Regions from separate parts of the Homo sapiens genome. Here region 2 is linked to region 1. Evidence: fine-mapped expression QTL. Tissue or cell type: whole blood. Region 1 holds a variant in brackets; the other region holds the start of a gene. All regions are shown on one strand. Distances are between the middles of the regions.

Region 1 (6,930 bases):
TGCTCCCAGGCCTTTCTGGGCCTCCTCACGCTGTGAGGCTGTTGCTGGGGCTGATAAGGGTGGGGTTCACTGCTGCTTCTGGAGAGCCTTGGACAGCAGGCAGTCCTGGAGCTGGACAAGCAGGACCCAGGGCAGCCACTGAGGTGGGCCCCCGTGCCACCTTTAGCGGGGGGAAAGGGAGCAGGGAGGGCTGGTCCTCTGAGGGATTCAGGCCCCTTACCCGAGGGCCTGCGGGGCGGGGAGTAGCCTCTGGCTGTGAGCTGGGAAGCCCTCACTCTGGAGGGACCTGGTTCCTGCTGGTAGGTGTCTCCCAAGGGCCTCCCATAGGGGTGTTGCCCCAAGACAGGCTGAGGGGTAGGGGCTGCAGGCACCGTGGAGGGGTCTTCCTGCCACAGGCAGCCCAGCTTAAAGTGAGGGTGGCTGCATCATTCTGGCCTGGTATAGGCATGGAGTGTTGGAGTCCGGGAGTGCTGCAGGCTGGCAGGGATGGGGGTCCACACACAGGAGTGCATGGGCTGTGAGCTTAGTAGACTCCTTCATAACCAAGGTGGGTGGTGTCCCCACACCTCTGCCAGGAGCCTACAGGGATTGACTCAGTTCTGTTGAGAGGCAGCTTAGTGAGCAGGTGGGAGTCAGTGAGATAGCTGGAGACTTGATGTGTGGCCAGGGACATGGTGAGAGGAGGGGCCTCCGTGGGGTGGGAAAGGGTGGGGTTCAGTGGTGGGGGAGGGACTCTGGGGAGGGGTGGGGATCAGTGGGTGCTCCCTGCCTGGTACCCTGTTCCACTGCACTATAAATAGCTGTACTAGTTGGTGGGAAGCTGGTGGGAAGGCATCTGGCTTGTGGCCTCTGATGGCTGAGCCTTTGTCCTGTCCACAGGGTGGAGGCAGCCTCACCCAGCCATCCAAGCCGGTGGTCAGTGCTGAGGCTGGGTGGGGGAGCCTCCGATGGACCCAGGAGTGGGAGGCTGCTCCTAATGGCAGTTGAGCCCCCTGCAGCCTTTTGCAGTGTCCAGATGAAGCCCACAGAGACCCTCCTCCATGTACACACAGCTGTGAGGGTAGCAGGAGTTGGTGTTGAAGGGAGAGCCCAGCCACGCTCAGGTCCCCACCACACATGGCCTGGGGGGGCTCCGCCCTTGGCTGAGCTGGAGGGCTTGGGGTCAGGACCAAGGGTGGGTCCACCCTGCTTGGAAAGAAGCTGTCCTGGCTTTTGGAGTCAGCGGGGGAGGGGCACTGCCCGGGAGCTGGTGTCTTGTTGGAAGGGGCAGCTGGGAGTAGGGAGCAGCCGAGCCACAGGCTGCCCGCGGCATCGTCCCCTGCCTCGGGTCAGGGGGCCCCTTGACTGGAGGACCTCACAACCCTGGGGGTGTCCATGGCCTGTTCCTGGGAGCTGCACCCTCATCAGATTCTCTGTAGGGGGAGAAGTCATATCTTTTCCTCACCCATCACAAGCTTCATGGCTGAGACCTGTTAGAAACAAAATGCTTCCTCGGTGCCACAAAGAAATAGCACTCAAACATTAATTTTCTCAGCAAGGCAATTTTTACTTCTATAGAAGGGTGCGACTCGCGGATGGAGCAATGGTGAGAGCGCACCTGGACAAGGGAGGGGAAGGGGTTCTTATTCCTGACACAGGTAGCCTCTACGGCTGTGTCATTCCCCTGTTGGGTGGGGTTGGACTGCACACTCTAAGGTAATTCTGATTGACTATTTTAAAGAGAGCAGGGGTGTGACCCAGAGTGGTGGGGTGAGTAGTTTGGCAGGAAGGACAGGAACAGGTAGCTAAAGATGACTTAGGTCAGAGCAGGTGACCAGGGGCCGGGTGCGATGGCTCACGCCTGTAATCCCAGCACTTTGGGAGGCCGAGGCGGGTGGATCATGAGGTCAGGAGATCGAGACCATCTTGGCAAACGTGGTGAAACCCCGTCTCTACTAAAAATACAAAAAAAATTAGCCAGGCGTGGTGGCGGGCACCTGTAGTCCCAGCTACTCGGGAGGCTGAGGCAGGAGAATGGCAGGAACCCGGGGGGCGGAGCTTGCAGTGAGCGGACATCGCACCACTGCACTCCAGCCTGGGCAACAGAGCGAGACTCCATCTCAAAAAAAAAAAAAAAAAAAAACAGGTACCAGGATGAGTCAGGACGGAGCAGGTGACCAGGGGAACAGATGTGAACTATTGATTAAAACTGGTGGAAAAGGTTGTTTACTGAAACTATGCACGAGTTAAATGGAGAACAAAGAACTGAACATACATGCTGAGTCCTCTAAGAGAAATCTAGAACTCACTGTATCCAACAGACCCTTGAACAAAAGACAGATTAAACTGGGCGCAGTGGCTCACGCCTATATTCCCAACACTTTGGGAGGCTGAGGCAGGTGGATCACTAGAAGCCGGGACTTCAAGTCCAGCTTGGTCAACATGGCAACCAACACGGCAAAACCCTGTTTCTATCAAAAACAAAAAAATTAGCCAGACGTGGCGGTGCATGCCTGGAGTCCCAGCTACTGGGGAGGCTGAGATGGGAGGATCCCCTGAGCCCGGGAGGCGGAGGCTGCGGTGAGCCAAGATTGCGCTACTGCACTCCAGCCTGGGCGTCAGAGAGCAAGACTCTGTCTTAAAAAAAAAAAAGAAAAAGCATACAAACATTTAATGCGAGTTCCATGTGATGTGGGCCCCTTCAAAACAAAGACCAAAGAAATGGTCTATTTCACAGCGGAGCAGGAGTGAGCGGAGGATGGAAGGGTGTGATCAAGGCCCGACTTGACTCTGACATCCCTTTCCTCTGGTTAGGGGGCGGGACACCACGTGAGGGTCTGCAGGGAGAGGGTCTGGGAGTGGCCTTCCTGGGTTTTATGGCCTGCTTCAGGGAAGAAAGGCAGGGAGGTTAGAATGGCCTCAACGGTGAAATATTTATCTTTTTCTTCCTCCCTAATCCCAGAATTCAGAAACTGTTAGTGGGTTTGCATAAGTTCAATGAGAATCTGTTCTTGTAATAGGGCACAATTGAAAACATTGGTTATATTACCAAGGCTTTGACTGGAATGTCCTATTTTCAGATACGACTAAAGGAGTTAGGGTTGACTGCATGGTCCAATAAAGCCCCTTGGAAAAAAGCTGGCCTGGTACCTCACATACGTGGTTCCCTTACAGATGAGTAAAGAATGTCAATTCCTGGCAGGTCCCAGAATCTTAAGATACCTTAGGGACCTCAAGAAGAGAGGAATTCCCCTAAATCTGTACTTATTGCAGGCAAAGTCTGATGGCAAGTCTTTGCGATGGCTTCCTAGCCTCAAGAGGCTTTTAAAAGCCCAATCTCAGATTCCTTATAAAAAGTTCCAGTAGGCCAGGCACAGTGGCTCACACCTGTAATCCCAGCACTTTGGGAGGCCACGGTGGGCAGATCACGAGGTCAGGGGATCGAGACCATCCTGGCTAACACGGTGAAACCCCGTCTCTACTAAAAATAAAAAAATTAGCCGGGCATGGTGGCGGGTGCCTGTAGTCCCAGCTATGCGGGAGGCTGAGGCAGAAGAATGGCATGAACCCGGGAGACGGAGCTTGCAGTGAGCCGAGATCGCGCCACTGCACTCCAGCCTGGGCGACAGAGCAAGACTCCGTCTCAGGAAAAAAAAAAAAAAAAGTTCCAGTAAAGCAAATTTTAAAAGAGCCCACGTGTCCAGGTGTACCTATAATCCCAGCACTTTGGGAGCCTGAGATGGGAGGTTTGCTTGAGCCCAGGAGTTCAGGACTGGCCTGGGCAACATAGTGGGGCTCCCTCTCTACTAAAATACAAATAAATTAGCCAGGTGTGGTGTCACATGCCTGTCGTCCCAGCTACTCTGGAGGGTGGGGCTGGAAGGTGGCTTGAGCCCAGGAGGTCAAGGCAGCAGTGAACCATGATGGTACCACTGCACTCCAGCCTCGGTGACAGGGTGAGGCCCTGTTGGAAAACAAAAATGAGGAAGAACCTATGTGGTTAATCACTATTCTTGTTCCACTTACATAAATAACCACACCAGGTTTA[A/C]TGAGGCCAAACTTACTCTGCAATCAAATCAATCTTTTATTATCTTTGATAGAAATGTGTTAATTTGAAAACAATCCTACTTTTATTATCTTTGATAGAAATGCGTTAATTTGCAGCCGGTCACGGTGGCTCACACCTGTAATCCCAGCACTTTGGGAAGCCGAGGTGGGCGGATCACCTGAGGTCAGGAGTTCGAGACCAGCCTGGCCAACATGGCAAAACCCTATCTCTACTAAAAATACAAAAATTAGTCGGGCGTGGTAGCAGGCACCTGTAATCCCAGAGACTTGGGAGGCTGAGGCAGGAGAATCACTTGAACCCGAGAGGCAGAGGTTGCAGTGAGCCAATATTGCGCCATTGCACTCCAGCCTGGGCGACAGAGCGAGACTCCATCTCAAAAAAAAAAAGGAAGAAGGAAATTTGTTGGCTGGGTGCGGTGGCTCACACCTGTAATCCCAGCATTTTGGGAGGCCGAGGTGGGTGGATCACCTGAGGTCGGGAGTTCGAGACCAACCTGACCAACGTGAAGAAACCCCATCTCTACTGAAAGTACAAAAATTAGCTGGGCGTGGTGGCGCATGCCTGTAATCCCAGCTACTCGGGAGGCTGAGGCAGGAGAATCACTTGAACCCGGGAGGCAGAGGTTGCCGTGAGCCGAGATCAAGCCATTGCACTCCAGCCTGTGCAATAAGAGCGAAACTCTATCTCAAAAAAAAAAAAAGAAAAAGAAATTTGTTGACTGTAGAGAGAAAAATTATGTTTCAAAATAAAACTCGTGCCCCCACTATTAGACTCTAGCCCGGTTTGCTGTCTGGAGGTTTTGTCGCCCACCTGTGGTCCGGACCGGGTCCTGAACTTCAGTTTCCTCCAATATTTGCCTACAGCTCACCAAACCACTCTTTCCAATTTTTTCTTCCACCATTCCTCATGGAGTCACTGAAAATTAAAACTGCTCTTTTCCCAAAGCCCTGTAAGCTGAAGCTGCCCCACTTGATACAGACTTCAGAGAAATTTCCCCAGCAACTCTCGTACAGACGGCTTTCGTGCCCAGGCTGGGCGCAGCAGCTCAGGCCTGTAGTCCCGAGGCAGGAGGATTGCTAGAGCCCAGGAGTTCGAGACCAGCCTGGGCAACATAGCAAGACCCTGAATCTCCTAAAAAAAAAAAAATTTAAAATTAGCCAGGTGTGGTGGTGCATTCCTGTAGTCCCAACTATTCAGGAGGCTGAGGCGGGAGGATCACTTGAGCCTGGGAATTCAAGGCTGCAATGAGCTGTGGTCACGCCACTGCGCTCCAGCCTGGGTGACAGAGCAAGACCCTGTCTTCAAAAACAAAAACAGAAACAAAAAACGTTTTCTTACATCTGGAAAACAAAATATTAAAGAACCGTAATGCTTCAGACAAAAGTCATTAAACAGTAAACATCCTCGTCAGTTCATTCATTCCCATGTCATTAATTCTTGTTCTGGTTGATCCTGGGACAGAACTTTCATGGACCTGCCAGGTCCCTCCTTCGAGTTCTGGAAATTTGCACCCAATCCAAGGCTATGACCTGAACCAGAAACCTGTGCTCCAGAGCACCTGTCAGAATCCTTCCCAGGAATCTCTTTGAAGAATAAACAATTTGGGACTAGCTGATTGCAAAGCTTTCAGAAAAAATCAAAGTAAGATAATAACTGTGAATGACCGAAGACTTAAGATAGCCATGGCTCAGGATCTGATGAGAGTTTATTATATTCGTGACACGGTTGGCAAGGAAACTTGGTTATTTCTGTGGCATGCAGCATTTTAATGTAATAACCAAAATTATGACTGATAACATTGCACCAGATTTCTAGGAATAGCATGTGAGATAGGATATATATCATAGGATAACGTATCAGATTTCTAGGAATTTTATAGAGTTTCTGCAACATTCATATCAAAACCAAACCCGTAAATAGAACCTCCAGAAGACTTAGTGTGACTTACTATTTCACACGCTTTCCATCTCATGTAGCACATCGGATAAGCCTGATTAGTCTGACATCTGTCTTTCACAAGGCAGAAGACAAATCCTTTTGAGAAATCCTAGTACCTTTCCAGAAACTCCCAAAATTATTTTTCTTTCTTTCTTTTTTTTTTTTTTTTTTTTGAGATGGAGTCTCGCTCTGTCGCCCAGGCTGGAGTGCAGTGGCGCGATCTCGGCTCACTGCAAGCTCCACCTCCCGGGTTCACACCAGTCTGCTGCCTCAGCCTCCCACGTAGCTGGGACTACAGGCGCCCACCCCCACCACCACACCCAGCTAATTTTTTGTATTTTTTAGTAGAGACGGGGTTTCACCGTGTTAGCCAGGATGGTGTCGATCTCCTGACCTCGTGATCCACCTGCCTCAGCCTCCCAAAGTGCTGGGATTACAGGCATGAGCCACCGTGCCCCGCCTATTCTTCTTTTAAACCAAAAAAACTTTCAGGTGAGTCAAAACCAAAACCAATAAGCTTTTTATGACTTAACCATGGATGAAAGAGACACCTTCAAAATCAGGTGCAAAGGAGGCAGCCCCCCCAGCCCGGAACCACCCCACAGACAGTAGAGAAGGGCCCTTGTCAGCGCAGGAGTGAGGGGCGCTTTCCAGCACTGACCCAGCGACAAAGGTGAAGGTGGGAAAAGCCCCTTGTGGACGTGGACGGTGAAACTGAGCTGGCGCCTCGGGCAGTGATGCTTGGGCTGGCAGAGACCAGGGAGAGAGTTCTCACTGGTCATAAGGCCAAGCTCTCAAGACACAAGACAAACAGGAAAGAAACACCTGCCCCTGGGAGGAAAGAACCCTTGAGCACCAAAACCAAATTTACATGAGCGTCCCGAGCCACGCGAATGACTTTCTCCCACCAAGCTGAACTGGGAAGAGCAGGAACAAGGCGTGTT
Region 2 (6,609 bases), 29 kb after region 1:
TGTCCCCACCAGGGACAACAGATCCAAAGTGTTCACTGCCCGTGCCCTGGTGGCCACAAACAGGGTTGAGCAAGACTGAGCACAAACTGGCCCCTGGTGCCCAGCAGTGAACAGGAGTGACTGTTGACCCTGCACAGAGGGGACTATGCTGAGCGCAAGAAGCCAGTCCCAAGGCTGCATACTGAAAGCCTGCACTGATAGGACATTCTTGAAATGACCAGACAGAGCCGGAGAGATGAGTGGTTGCAGGGCTAGGGAGAGGTGGGAGGGAGCAGCGTGGCTGTAAAGAACATGTCAGGGTCCCGTGGGGGTGGCACTGCCTTGCGTCTGTATCGACGTCAAGGTCCTGGCGTGATTCTGCACTGCAGTCCTGCAAGATGCTACCACTGGGGATGCTGGATAGAGGGTAACGGGACCTCTGTGTTACTTCTTACAACTGCAGATGAATCTATACTTATCTTAAAAGTAAAAGTTTAACTTTATTATTATTATTATTATTTTCGAGACAGGCCTCTGTCTTATTGCACCCAGGCTGGAGTGCAGTGGCACAATCTCGGCTCACTGCAACCTCCACCTCCTGGGTTCAAGCGATTCTCCTGCCTCAGCCTCCTGAGTAGCTGGGACTACAGGCGCCCACCACCACGTCCAGCTAATTTTTTTTTTTTTTTTGAGACAGAGTCTCGCTCTGTCGCCCAGGCTGGAGTGCAGTGGCGTGATCTCGGCTCACTGCAAGCTCCACCTTCCAGGTTCACGCCATTCTCCTGCCTCAGTCTCCCGAGTAGCTGGGACTACAGGCGCCTGCCACCACTCCCAGCTAGTGTTTTGTATTTTTAGTAGAGACGGGGTTTCACCATGGTCTCGATCACGTCCAGCTAATTTTTGTATTGTTAGTAGAGACTGGGTCTTACTATGTTGGCCAGGCTGGTCTTGAACTCCTGACCTCAGGTGATCTGCTTGCCTCAGCCTCCCGAAGTGCTGGGATTATAGGCGTGAGCCACTGCGCCCAGCCATTATTATTCTTTTTAGAGACACAGGGTCTCCCTCTGTCACCCAGGCTGGAGTGCAGTGGCACCATCTTGGCTCACTGCAGCCTCATCCTCCCAGGCTCAGGTGATCCTCCGGCCTCAGCTTTCCAAGTAGCTGAGACCACAGGTGCACACCACCACACCCAGCTAATTTTTCAAATTATTTGTAGAGACAGGGGTCTCCCTGTGTTGCCGAGGCTGGTCTCAAACTTCTGGCCTCAAGGGATCCTCTCACCTTGGCCTCTCAAAGTGCTGAGGTTATGGGCCTGCGCCACCGAGCCTGGCCAAAAGTTTAACTTTAAAAAATTAGATTAGAAATCAGAAATTGAAAGAAAGGGGGTAGGGTGGAGCCCAGGAGAGGGGAGACATCCAGGACCTGCCTGGCCCCAAAAGAGAAGGGGAGGCTGCTCTGCCCCCACCCCGCTTCTCCGTCAGTGGGCTGCAGGGCCGGGGGTAAGGGGTCTAACTCCTACTGCTTCCCAACCCTCCGCGTCAGACAGCACCCCCTTCTCCAAACAACCCCGGCTTTGTCCCCTGGAGCCCTAAATAACAATAACAATAGCTGGCATTTATTGAGTTCCAGCCCAGGCAGGGAGGGCAGGGCAGAAACAGCACCCAACAGGACTGGGTGCAAGGCTCACACCTGTAATCCGGAAGGATCAGAAAGACCCAGGTGGGAGGATCACTTGAGCCCCGGGGGTGAAGACTGCCGCATGGGTGACAGAGCAAGACGCTATCTCAAAAAAAAAACCACCCACATCCACCCACTTCCTGCCAGGCCTAACCCCTGGGGCCTCCATGCACCAAGGGAAAGCTCTTCCAGGGTGGGGTCACCGGGAGGAGGGGGGAGGCTCAAGTTACAGAACAGCCTGGTAGGGGCTCAAAGACGCCCATCCTGGAAGAGGCCCCAGCACTGACCTCCGTGGGGGTGGAGATGAGGAGGATGGAAAGGGTGTCTTCCTCCAGCATCTTCCTGAAGGTGAAGGAGGGGCACCTTGGGGTGTCTAAGATTGTGACCCCAGGAGACCCCCAGCTAGCTGGGGTGTGCTGTGGGGGAACGGGGGGATCCCAGAGGCCCTGAGCCCAACTGAACAGATACAGACGGGACCAGATGGCCTCAGAGCTCCCCTGCGGGGCTCCCTGGAGCTATGGAGACCCCATTTATCCAGAGTCAGGTCGGTGCCTGAGCTTGGGCAGCCCCAGGTGGAAGGAGCCCATGGTGGGAGGAGCCTGTAGTGGGAGGAGCCTGTAGTGGGAGGAGCCTATGATGGGAGGGGCCGTGGTGGGGGGAGCCCGCGGTGGGAGGAGCCTGCGCTGGGAGGAGCCTGTGGTGGGAAGACCCTGTGGTGGGAGGGGCCGTAGTAGGGGAGCCCGCGGTGGGAGGAGCCTGCTCTGGGAGGAGCCTGTGGTGGGAGGGGCCGTGGTGGGGGGAGCCCGCGGTGGGAGGAGCCTATGATGGGAGGGGCCGTTGCGGGGGAGGGGGGAGCCCATGGTGGGAGGAGCCTGTGGTTGAGGAGCCTGCGGTGGGGGGAGCCTGCGGTGGGAGGAGCCTGTAATGGGTGGCATCTGTAATGGGCGGGGCCTTGCTGGGCAGAGCCCGCGGCGGGGGAAGCCGCCCCTCTCCTCTGTCCAGGCGCTGGGTGGTCCATCCGCCTGGTCACCGGCCACTGCCTCTCTCCCAAATTCCTCCGAGGGATTCCCGAGGAGTGCGCTCGGACTGGGGGGTTGAGCAGGAACTCCCTCCCAGTCACCCGAGGCTCCTGCGCCCCGCCCGAAGCCGGGGGTGCGTGGGGAGTGGTGCGCCCGCGGAAGGGCTCCGGGACGGGAACCCCCCTTGGAGCCTGGCTCTTGGACCAGCCACCCGCCGTGGCCCCTCAGTCGGGGACGCGGGCCCCCAGAAGTCTGGGGCTCTCCAGGAAGCGAAGCGGATGGAAGATTACTCGGCTCGGGGTCCCGGGTCCCCACCCCCGCCCCGCCCCCGGGCCGCAGCGTCACAAAGGCCGCTGGTCCCCAGGGCAACCCGCGGAGTGCGGAGGGAGGCTGGGCTCTGGGAAGTCCGCGCGCGGCTCCGCTTCAGAGGCAGGGCAAGTGGGCGCGGTCCTGGGGCGGCGGCGGGGGCCGGGAGAGGAGGGCTGGGGGTCTCGAGAAGGTAAGGGGCAGGCAGAGCGGCCGGGGAGGTGGGCCCGGGCCAGGGGAGCCAAGGGGAGTGTGGTGGAGGGGGTAGAGTGCGGGCACCTGGTGGTCTCAGGGAAGCGGGCCTGGGACCGGGGCGTGTAGGAAGCAGCGAGGGGCTCAGAACCACCTTTCCGGGTTCACGACCAGCCTCTCTGGGTGTTCCACCTGGGCAGCTGCTGGAGACTAGAAAACATCCCTCACACGTCACAGAGGCACGGTTTCCCTCCAGCGGTGAAATCCGCCCCAGCCTCCAGCAAGAGCAGGGCTTAGGCCTGGGGTCCTGGGGTCCTGCTCTCAGCTGGCACCTCACCCCAGACACACTCCCTGCTGCCCCCAGGGGCCTGTTCTCGAGGGATTCCCGAGGAGTGCGCTCGTGAAGTCATATCTGCCTCACGCCCAAAAGGGCAACCCTTCCCGGGCAGATATGACTTCACCACGTACCTGTGTGGCCCTGGGGAACTCAGCAACTGCTTAGCTCTCATTTGTGGGTCGTCCAAGGCCCAAGTGGCTGTGACAACCTGAGATCTCCAGGGTTGCTGGGAGCCGGGGCAGCAACCAGGGGTGCGGCTTGCTCTCCAGGGAGCTGCGGCAGAGCCTGGGGCCACAGCTGCACTCAGCCGGTGCACCCACGGACAGAGGGTCAGACTCGGCTCAGCACTGGGCTCAAGCCCTGGATGAGAACAAGAACCAAGCTTCTTAGCCTCAGGCTCCATCTGGGAAATGGAGTGTCACTTGTGGAGTCCATGAGCTCACCAGGGACAGGATCCCGGGTCCACAGCGAGGGCCCACAGCGTGGGAGGAGGGCTGCTCCTCCGGGCCCAGGCCTGGGCGCCCTCCTCCCATGCTGACCAGCCAGCTGGCCTCGTCTTTGGTGAGGCCTGTCTCTGTGCCCTACAACTGCGGTGAGGCGTGGAGCGTCCCCAGGGAGAACCGGAGCGGGAGGATGGCCCGCGAATGTCCCCGAGGGGGATCCTGTGCTGCTTAGGACCACGCCGTCCCCTCTCCACGGCCCCGAGGGGTGCCAGCAACCCCTTTCAGCAGCAGGGTTAGGAACTGGGGCCCTTGCAAGGCCACAGGTCAGGCGGTTCTGGCCAGAAGTCCGCAGTCCTAGTTCTTCCCTGTCCTGTCCCACAGGCCACTGGTTGTCAGTAGAGGTTTTTGCCCCTCAGTATAAACTGTGTCCAGATCTGTAGGCTGCCCATCCAGCCCTCCAGGCAGCCTCTTCCCATCGAGTTGTGCCCCCGAAGAAGGACAGAGGTCCAGCATGGGGTCAGTGGGCTGAATCCATCCCCCGAACATGCCACAGCCCAGGGGAGGCCAGCCTGCCTGGCAGCTGACACCCAGCCCTCCCCCCAGCTCCCGGATAATGAGCACCCATGTGGCAGGCCTGGGCCTGGACAAGATGAAGCTGGGCAATCCCCAGTCCTTCCTGGACCAGGAGGAGGCAGATGACCAGCAGCTGCTGGAACCAGAGGCGTGGAAGACCTACACCGAGCGCCGCAATGCCCTGCGTGAGTTCCTGACCTCGGACCTGAGTCCGCACCTGCTCAAGCGCCACCACGCCCGCATGCAGCTGCTGCGTAAGTGCTCCTACTACATCGAGGTCCTGCCCAAGCACCTGGCCCTGGGCGACCAGAACCCGCTGGTGCTGCCTAGCGCCTTGTTCCAGCTCATCGACCCCTGGAAGTTCCAGCGCATGAAGAAGGTGGGCACAGCTCAGACCAAGATCCAGCTCCTGCTGCTCGGGGACCTGTTGGAACAGCTCGACCATGGCCGTGCTGAGCTGGATGCCCTGCTCCGGTCGCCAGACCCACGGCCCTTCCTGGCCGACTGGGCGCTGGTGGAGCGGCGGCTGGCGGACGTGTCGGCCGTCATGGACAGCTTCCTGACCATGATGGTGCCGGGGCGGCTACACGTCAAGCACCGCCTGGTGTCTGATGTCAGTGCCACCAAGATCCCGCACATCTGGCTCATGCTGAGCACCAAGATGCCTGTCGTGTTTGACCGAAAGGCGTCGGCGGCTCACCAGGACTGGGCCCGGCTGCGCTGGTTCGTCACCATCCAGCCAGCCACATCGGAGCAGTATGAGTTGCGCTTCAGGCTGCTGGACCCGCGGACACAGCAGGAGTGCGCCCAGTGTGGCGTCATCCCCGTGGCTGCCTGCACCTTCGACGTCCGAAACCTGCTGCCCAACCGATCCTATAAGTTCACCATCAAGAGGGCCGAGACCTCCACGCTGGTGTACGAGCCCTGGAGGGACAGCCTCACCCTGCACACCAAGCCGGAGCCCCTGGAGGGGCCCGCCCTCAGCCACTCTGTCTGAGAGATGATTTTCTAATATTTATCCACTAATAAAGAAGAGTGTAAATGCACATATGGAATTAAAGAAGCAAACCTATTTATGTTTTAAAGGCAGCAGCCACCAGTGTTTTTCCTGGCTCAAAACATGCCAAGCCCCAGGCCTTCTGCTCCTGCTCTTTCCCAGGGGGAGCCACAGGCCGGACCTCCCAAGACAGCTGAGCCTGGAGCAAGAAGTACCAGCCCCTGACACCTACGGGTCCAACGACGACGACAAAAGCTGCTCCACGGGGCCTCTGCGGTCCTAGCCCCCGCCCCTCCTCACCACCCCCATCACCGTGACCGGGCTCCGGCCTTCCTTACCCACCTCCCTGGCTTGTGGGGCTCCCTCAGGGAATGACACTCCTAGGCCGTGATGCCTCCCACCATCCCCTGCCCAGCCTCGAGTGCTCATCAGCACGCCCGCCCGAGGAGGCAGCAGCACCACCGGGGATCCCTGGCTGTGAGCAGCTCAGCCGTGCCCCTCCATGCCCCGCCCCACCTTTTGTTCCTCAAGGGCCTTCCCGGCCCTGAGCTCCCTCTCTCCTCCAGGATCAGCTGCTTTTGCTAGGCGTCCAGCCCCTGCGTCCCCCCACCGCTCACCTTCAGGGCCGCAGCTGCCCCTTCCTCCCAGAAGCCTTCCCTGGCTGCAGGCTGGTGAGGTCCCCAAGTCCCCCTTCCTAGAGGCGCCTTCTCATCCTCTCTGCAGGCACTTCTCAAGCTATTGCAGAACTACTCTTATTTCATGACGGTCCAAGAATAGACATGGTCTTCAAGGCAGGGCCCGTCCAGCACACCAACGGGGCCACAGTCCTGGAGACTCCATGCTCCACCCCTCCCTCCACAGATGCCCAGAACCTCTTTTCCCACAGTGACCATAGCCCCCGCGACCATCTGACCCCCGAGCTGGCTCTGGGAGGCCACAGGAGCCCCTGTGGACGCAGCCACAAATGGGCCAGGTGCGGAGGGACCCCAGTCCACAGCGGCCAGGGGGTCCTGGGGAGCAGCTTTAAAAGTGGGACCAGCAGGACAGTCAAGGCTGGTGGCCTCAGGGACTTTGGACTTGGCCAGC

What was found. PIP is the estimated chance that this variant, and not a neighbour inherited with it, causes the effect.
Region 2: FNDC11 starts here. The variant in region 1 is fine-mapped to the expression of FNDC11 in whole blood (INTERVAL, PIP 0.96).

The regions. Positions count from the first base shown.
Region 1 is chr20:63,522,266-63,529,195 of GRCh38, forward strand. It overlaps PTK6 (protein tyrosine kinase 6), which reads right to left. Exons shown (of 8, transcript NM_005975.4): 8 at 5,736-6,930. Among named protein-coding and RNA genes, the nearest start is that of PPDPF, 5.0 kb to the left of the region's middle. RefSeq lists a silencer at 6,871-6,930. The variant A/C (reference allele first, on the strand shown) is at 4,028.
Region 2 is chr20:63,551,098-63,557,706 of GRCh38, forward strand. It overlaps FNDC11 (fibronectin type III domain containing 11), which reads left to right and starts at 3,062. Exons shown (of 2, transcript NM_001319152.2): 1 at 3,062-3,109; 2 at 4,557-5,598. The coding sequence starts at 4,567. The coding sequence ends at 5,523. RefSeq lists enhancers at 1,874-1,963, 2,259-2,553 and silencers at 2,244-2,303, 2,324-2,473, 2,494-2,633, 2,904-3,153.